Linked DNA regions of Homo sapiens: region 2 is reported to be linked to region 1. The links are microRNA targets in miRTarBase. Many come from high-throughput screens and were not tested one by one. Region 1 holds a microRNA gene; the other region holds the end of a gene's coding sequence.
What was found. Region 1 holds the annotated microRNA hsa-miR-1197 (UAGGACACAUGGUCUACUUCU, at 920-940, shown strand). A microRNA usually pairs through its seed, bases 2 to 8, with sites in the 3' UTR of a target mRNA and lowers its output. Matches are read on the target gene's strand: a 7mer-m8 pairs with bases 2 to 8, a 7mer-A1 pairs with bases 2 to 7 and ends in A, and an 8mer does both.

Region 2: the mRNA of AJAP1 is a reported target of hsa-miR-1197. The part of its 3' UTR that is shown has no 7-base or 8-base seed match.

What each region holds. Positions count from the first base shown.
Region 1 is chr14:101,024,701-101,028,498 of GRCh38, forward strand. MIR1197 (microRNA 1197) reads left to right here and starts at 864; the gene lies at 864-951. It overlaps LOC124903407 (mucin-2-like), which reads left to right. Exons shown (of 5, transcript XM_047432049.1): 5 at 1-3,798. MIR380 (microRNA 380) reads left to right here and starts at 317; the gene lies at 317-377. It overlaps MIR323A (microRNA 323a), which reads left to right and starts at 1,032; the gene lies at 1,032-1,117. It also overlaps MIR758, MIR329-1 and MIR329-2.
Region 2 is chr1:4,773,918-4,776,917 of GRCh38, forward strand. AJAP1 (adherens junctions associated protein 1) reads left to right here. Exons shown (of 6, transcript NM_018836.4): 5 at 510-641. The coding sequence ends at 582. Among named protein-coding and RNA genes, the nearest start is that of AJAP1, 120 kb to the left of the region's middle.

The DNA.
Region 1 (3,798 bases):
CGGGGTACTTAGTAGAAGTTGGCCATGCTTCATATGTTTTACTTACAACGCATGTTACTTCGTCCACCTTCCTATAACAGCGTGCACCTCGGGGGGCTTTCTGTAGGCAGGAACGAGTGTCAGTCATAGCACTAGTTCCAGCATCATCTCCATTCTTGAGGGGCTCCTTTGTGCTGCGTCCACTGCATCTGCGGCAGACATTGCATGGTGGCCTCTTCTCAATACTACATCAGGCCTCAGAGGGCTTCCTGGAGGTGATGCTAGTGAGAGGAAAGAGACACCGGCTCTGACCTCAGCCCTCTCCAAGGTACCTGAAAAGATGGTTGACCATAGAACATGCGCTATCTCTGTGTCGTATGTAATATGGTCCACATCTTCTCAATATCAAATTCAGTCATAGAGGGCTTCCCAGAGAGAGGCAAAGTCACCTTCGTGGGAGACACACTGATCTGGCTTCAGCGCCATTCCACAGTACTTGGAGAGATGGTAGAGCATAAAGCATATGCATTGTTGAATGACAGATGTAGCATGGTCCACTCATTCTCAGTATCAGCCAGCCCTGGGGCTTCCCGGAGGCCATGCCGACTTGAGAGCCAGGCCTGAGTGGTAGCCAGGGTGCAGTGCAGGTCACCGGGTGGTTGGCTGCAGACCCAGTCCTTTATTTATTACATTGGCCATTTGGTCCACCAGCCAAGAACTCAGTACCGGTCCCACCCTTACAGGGCATCCTGGAGGTGGTAGTGGCATTGGATGTGGGTTTGTGGTCATTGCCACATTGCCGGTGGCTGGTAGTTCATGATGCGCATTGTGAGGCTTTCTGGAGGTGATAGCAGGTGAAAGGAAGAGAGCCAGGGGTCAGCGTCACTTCCTGGTATTTGAAGATGCGGTTGACCATGGTGTGTACGCTTTATTTGTGACGTAGGACACATGGTCTACTTCTTCTCAATATCACATCTCGCCTTGGAAGACTTCCAGGAGGTGATATCAGCTTTGCGGAAGAGCCACTGTCCTGGTGTCAGTACGGCTGCTGCTTGGTACTTGGAGAGAGGTGGTCCGTGGCGCGTTCGCTTTATTTATGGCGCACATTACACGGTCGACCTCTTTGCAGTATCTAATCCCGCCTTGCAAGCTTTCCTGGAGCTAACATCAACTGCGGGGGTGGGGGCCACTAGGTCTGCGCTCAGTGTGACCCAGCGGGGTTTGTGATGTGTTTGTCTTGTGTGTGACGATAACTCACGTGTGGCAGCCTTCTTCTCAGCACACTGCTCTGGCTTGGCAGCAGGGTTAACTTGCGGACAAGGAGCGTGGTGTCAGCACGTGCCTGGATACATGAGATGGTTGACCAGAGAGCACACGCTTTATTTGTGCCGTTTGTGACCTGGTCCACTAACCCTCAGTATCTAATGCCCCCTTGGAGAACTTCCTGGAAGAGGTGTCAACTTTTTGGGAAAGAGACAGTAAACTGGGGCCAGCTGCACTCTGTTAGACTCTGAAGAGAGCATCTGCGAGGCGTTTGCGACATGTATGCCAAATGTGGCTGAGTTGGACTGATTTTCACTCCGATCTCTTTCCTTGGAGGGCTTCCTAGATGTGGAGGCATCCAAGTTCAAGGGAAGGGGCATGCTGTCTATACCATCCCAAAGTCCTCCAGTGATCAGCTGACCTGAGTGTATGCACTTTAATTTACAACCAAGGTCGCCTGGCCCGTCACACCTCAGTCTCCACTGGGTCCTTAGCAGGACCTTTGGTGGAGTCAGCCTTGCTTTGGGGCATCTGTGCCTCTCTTGAGTAACTGAGAAAAGATGGCCCTGGAGGTTAACCCTAAACGCGATAGCTGCTGTGACCAGCCTTTTTATGGCATCACCACCTCTGGCTGTGATGTCAACTTCCAGACGTGATGTGGGGTCTGCTCCACTGGGGTACTTGGATAGATGGTTGGCAAGCAGCATGCATCCAACTCTTGGCTTCTTCCGGCAAATCAACTAACTAACGCTCAGTGTGCAATTCCATATTTAACAGGACTTCCAGCACTGAATGTCAAGTCTGGGGAAGAATCAGTGGTGTTCTTGTCAGTGTTAATCAGTGGTACCTGAAGAGAGGTTTTCTGGGTTTCTGTTTCTTTAATGAGGACGAAACACACCTGGTTAACCTCTTTTCCAGTATCAAATCCCATCTTGGAGGCCTTCTGGTCCAGACCTCAGCTTCAGGGAAGGGCGTTACTCTCAGCTCCAGTCCACTGGACAGAAATCTATGGTTAACCACGAAGCCTGTGCTGTATTATTTTGACTGATGTCATCTGTTCTACTAACCCCAGTGTCCAATCCGTATTTAACAGGACTTCCAGGACTGAATGTCAAGTTTGGGGAAGGAATCAGTGGTGTTCTTGTCAGTGTTACTTGGTGGTACCTGAAGAGAGGTTTTCTGGGTTTCTGTTTCTTTATTGAGGACGAAACACACCTGGTTAACCTCTTTTCCAGTATCAAATCCCATCTTGGAGGCCTTCTGGTCCAGACCTCAGCTTCAGGGAAGGGGTGCTGTGGACATAAATAAGGAGACACGAGCAAATGGCTGATCACTAAGCGTGCCCCATGTTTCTGAATTTTGCCACCGATTGCGCTAACCCTCAATGTCTTATCCCTTCTTAGGAGGACTTTTCAATGTGATGGCAGCCTGGGGGAAGACAGTGTCACCACGACAGTGTCACGGAACATGCAGGTGAGTTGTCTGTGGTTGCCTTCGTTGTGCTCCCAACGGATCGTGTGTGTAATTCAGGCTCTTTCGGCATCTGACCCTGCTGTAGGGGGATGCCTCGTCCTTGCCACACTCAGTGATGGGCTTGAATGAGCCCAGCCCACAGCAGGGGAATGCCAGCATGCCCTGGACAGATAGTGCAGGTGTCCTGCACGCCTGCCCCTAGCCTGCAGTTTATTCTGAAAGGATGTCCTGGATATAATGACACCTTAGGGAAGAAAAGCTGATTCTGAGGTCAAGAGGAGACCTTGGGGGCCCTGGAATTGGCCCAGGTTGAGACCTGTTTATTTCTCACAGGAATTGTGGAGTTGACTTCCTTTAAATCTGGAGGAATCCTTGATGTCATGCCAGCTTGAAGGGAGGGCATTGTCACCAGCCCTGATCCAGGGGAAGGGAGTGGATGGCCCACCACGGGGCATGTACCTCCCCAGGAACACACCTGCTCCACTGACCAGCACATCTGACCTACCCTCAGGGTTGTGTTTCTGCAGATGGTCCTTCTTTGGGGTGCTCAAGGAGAGGTTTCCTTTGGCATATCTGTTTCTTTTATATAAATCATTTCTGTGGACCACTCTTCAGTATCAAACACCAGTTTGGAAGGCTTCCGGATAAGACAGTTGTCAGGCCCAGGCCAGGGTGAGTGGGCCGAGATGGGTGCTTCCCCTGTTCTAAGCGTCCTGTCTGGCAGTAATGCTTGGTGCCCGATCCTTTCCAGGAGGACTTCCTGGAGGTGATGCCAGCCTCTGGGGAAGGAAAAGGCTCCCTGCCAGCTCTAAAGCCAAGGCACAGAAGTAGGTTTTGCTGGTGCTGCATTTGTTTTGATGGCACTTAGCTGTGACTGTGGGTCCTCGGCTCATCTGTGGCATTTGGGGATGGGACTGTGAGGGAGGAGGGCCTCAGGTTCTGGAGAAGGGCCAGGTATTTCCATGTCAACCCTGCTTTTTATAACCAGAGAGAACATATGAGGTAGCACCAATGACCTCCGCCACCAATCCTTCCTATTAGCTGATACCCAAACACCGTTCCTTCCAGCCGAAAAGAGCCCTC
Region 2 (3,000 bases), not on the chromosome of region 1:
TTGGATGGAACTAGTTCTTGCCTTTTGGCCCAAGGTCATGCTCTGTTGGGTTTCATTGGCCTTGGGAAATGGTAGCTTAGTCTCAAAGGTGACAAAATATGGGCGAGACATTTTGGGAGCCAGGTTCTATCCTTTCTGTCATGTGCAATAAAGTGGGTCAAATCTGCCATCAGAGGCAGAGACCCCAGGCTCTGGGCTAATCCTGCAAATTCAAAAACGAAAATGTGGAGACGGCACAGCCTTCCGGCCTGTGCAGCAAAGTGCTCGTGTGCCCAGATCCCTCAGTCTGTGTCTTCCAAAGCCTCCCAGGGTAGAAAGCATTCGTGTGTGAGGACTTCTCCCAGCCACAGGGAATGTGGGGGGTGGTCCCTTCCTGGCAAGGCCAGGAGTCCACATTAGTGCTTCCTTTCTCAAGAAGCCAGTCCCCACCACAGGCCTGCCCCGGCTTGCCTATCATGTGTCATGGTCAAGTACCAGCACGCCAAAGCCCATTTTTCTGTTCACCGCAGACCCTCCTCTTCTGATCGGCATCTTATTCCTGTGGCCTTCGTGTCTGAGAAATGGTTTGAAATCTCCTGCTGACTGGCCGAAGTCTTTTTTACCTCCTGGGGGCAGGGCAGACGCCGTGTGTCTGTTTCACGGTAGGTACCTCTCTTTGGACATTCCTGTTTTCGTTCCCTTTCCTCCCCTCCCCACTGCCCTCCCCTGCACTCTTTGGGATCACTGGGAGCTCTTTTAGACATGGCGGGTGGATTTCCAATGGCATCACTTCTCTGAACATGAGCCGGCGGGGGGGGCTGGGCTTTTGACCTTGATGTTGGATTTGTTAGAAGTGCCCTCCCCGTCCCAGGGGAGGATAGTAACAGACATTCATGCACCCTGATTCCACGTCCTCACTATTCTTATCAGTGCCACTCCTTCCCTCAGGAAGGCCACCACATGCGTGGCCTACGTGGCAGGGAAAGTCATTCCCTAAAACAAGCGACAATTACAGCTCTCATTTCCCACAACAGGAGGAGATTAGGACAGCGGCTAGGGAGGCAGGAATCGCACCTCCATCACATGTCTTTACATCGGGGGAGGGCGCAAGGCAGAATTAAAATACAATTTTGAAATATAAAAATAAGAGATAAGAAAGAAAATGATAAAGAAAGAAAGGGAAGAGTTGAGACATCTACTAATTTGAAGCCAGGAACCGGCACCAAAACAGGATGAATTTTCCACGCTCTGCTGGATGGGAACATTTGGTTTGCTTTTAGTGATATTAACTTTAATGCTAACGTTAAATTGCCTCCTTCTGTGCTGAGTCTTCAGAGCACTCGGGCTGCTGAGGGGAGAGAGCATTGCGCCCTCATGGCTGCACATCCCATGCATTCTATAAGCACAGCCCATGGGTGTGACCTGAGGTTTTCGTGTTGTTTTCATGGTTCTTTTCGACGCTGGGCTTTCTACGCATCCTCATCTTGCTTCCTTCCAAAGGTGACCTAAGATCCCTTCCATGAGTAGGGAGCCGTATTTCTAGGATAGAATACCAATATTTGAAAATATTTTTTTCTTACTTTTTGCCCACCATCTGATATGAGGGACAGAATGGACAAAGTCCTCAGGGGCCCGCGGACAGGGAAGGTCTGGAGGACTCAGCTGGCTGCACCTTGCTGGGGGCGGGGAACCAGCTGCAGTCAGAGAGGGGAGTGAATCGGTCAGTTCCTCATCCTGGCACTAATGAACTGCATGTTTGCTCCAAATCAAATCTCCAGCCCTCACTCCCTACCCCGAAGCCAACATGTTCTGCCAACTGGCAAAGAAACGTAATTAGATTAGAATATGGGAACCGAGCTGCCCTGCAAGGGCCTTTGCTGCAGCAGGTAAGAGGCGGGTTGCCCCCACCATTCAGTGGGGGGATGTGCAGCCTAGAGCATCCATCAGAAGCCAGTGCCTTTGTCTGCCTCACCGCAGCTCCCCTCATGAAGGGAGCCCCTACTGGAGTGCCAACCAAGCTAGCCGCAGGGAGCTGGCTTGCTAGCAGTGTAGTCCGCGACCCGCCTGGTAAAGCCTCTGTAGGGACTGGGTCCTGATGGTTGCCAGCATCTCTGTTATGATTTTTAAAATTTGTTAATGCACAATTCATTGACCTGGGAGATGCAAGGCCTTAGAGTCGAAGACCCTCACTCCCTTCCGCCAAGAGCCACAGACCCACAGAACTGGAGAGGTCAACTCGGGGGGACAGCCCCGTAATACGGATGTTTGCACGGCAGCTCGTGGAACACTTTTTACTTGCCCAGTCCTCCCAGCAATCTCATTTACAAGTGGGGAAACCGAGGCAGTGGGAGGTTAAATGACTTGGCCGAGGTCAGCTCCCTAGGGGAGAGGGGACAGCTTTCTAATGTTTGCACGGCAGCTCATGGAACACTTTTTACCTGCCCAGTCCTCCCAGCAATTCCTTTTACAAGTGGGGAAACTGAGGCAGTGGGAGGTTAAATGACTTGGCCGAGGTCAGCCAGGTTGTTAGTGGTGGGGCTGGATCACCCGATGGCTGCCTGGCTCCGGGACATCCCCTGCCTACTCCACAGGCCTGAGCCCAGGGATCCTTCTTTTCCATTAGAACAGGAGCCCGCAGCACTGACTTTAAAAAAAATAAAAAGATAAAATAGGGCAAAAAAAAGTGTTTTATTTACTCATCTGCCCCAGAAAACCTTCGTGTCTCATCAGCCTGGTCCTCCCCTTCCAGCAGCATGGGGCACTGAAGACCCCCCAGAAATACTGTTGGTGGGCTAGCCCTGTGCTGCAGCCCCAGGCAAAGGCAAGAGACATGGGCGCCCCCAGATGGGCCCCAGGTGGACCCCACTTCCCAACTGTGCCTGAGGAGCTGTTTCAGGACCACCGGCATTTACACAAGGAAACATCTCTGTGTCTAAAGAGCTGACCCCCTCCCTGTGGCTCTCAGGTAGGTCGTCCGCAGAGTTCAGAAGAGCCCGTGAGGCTTACTGAAGGCAGCTGCGC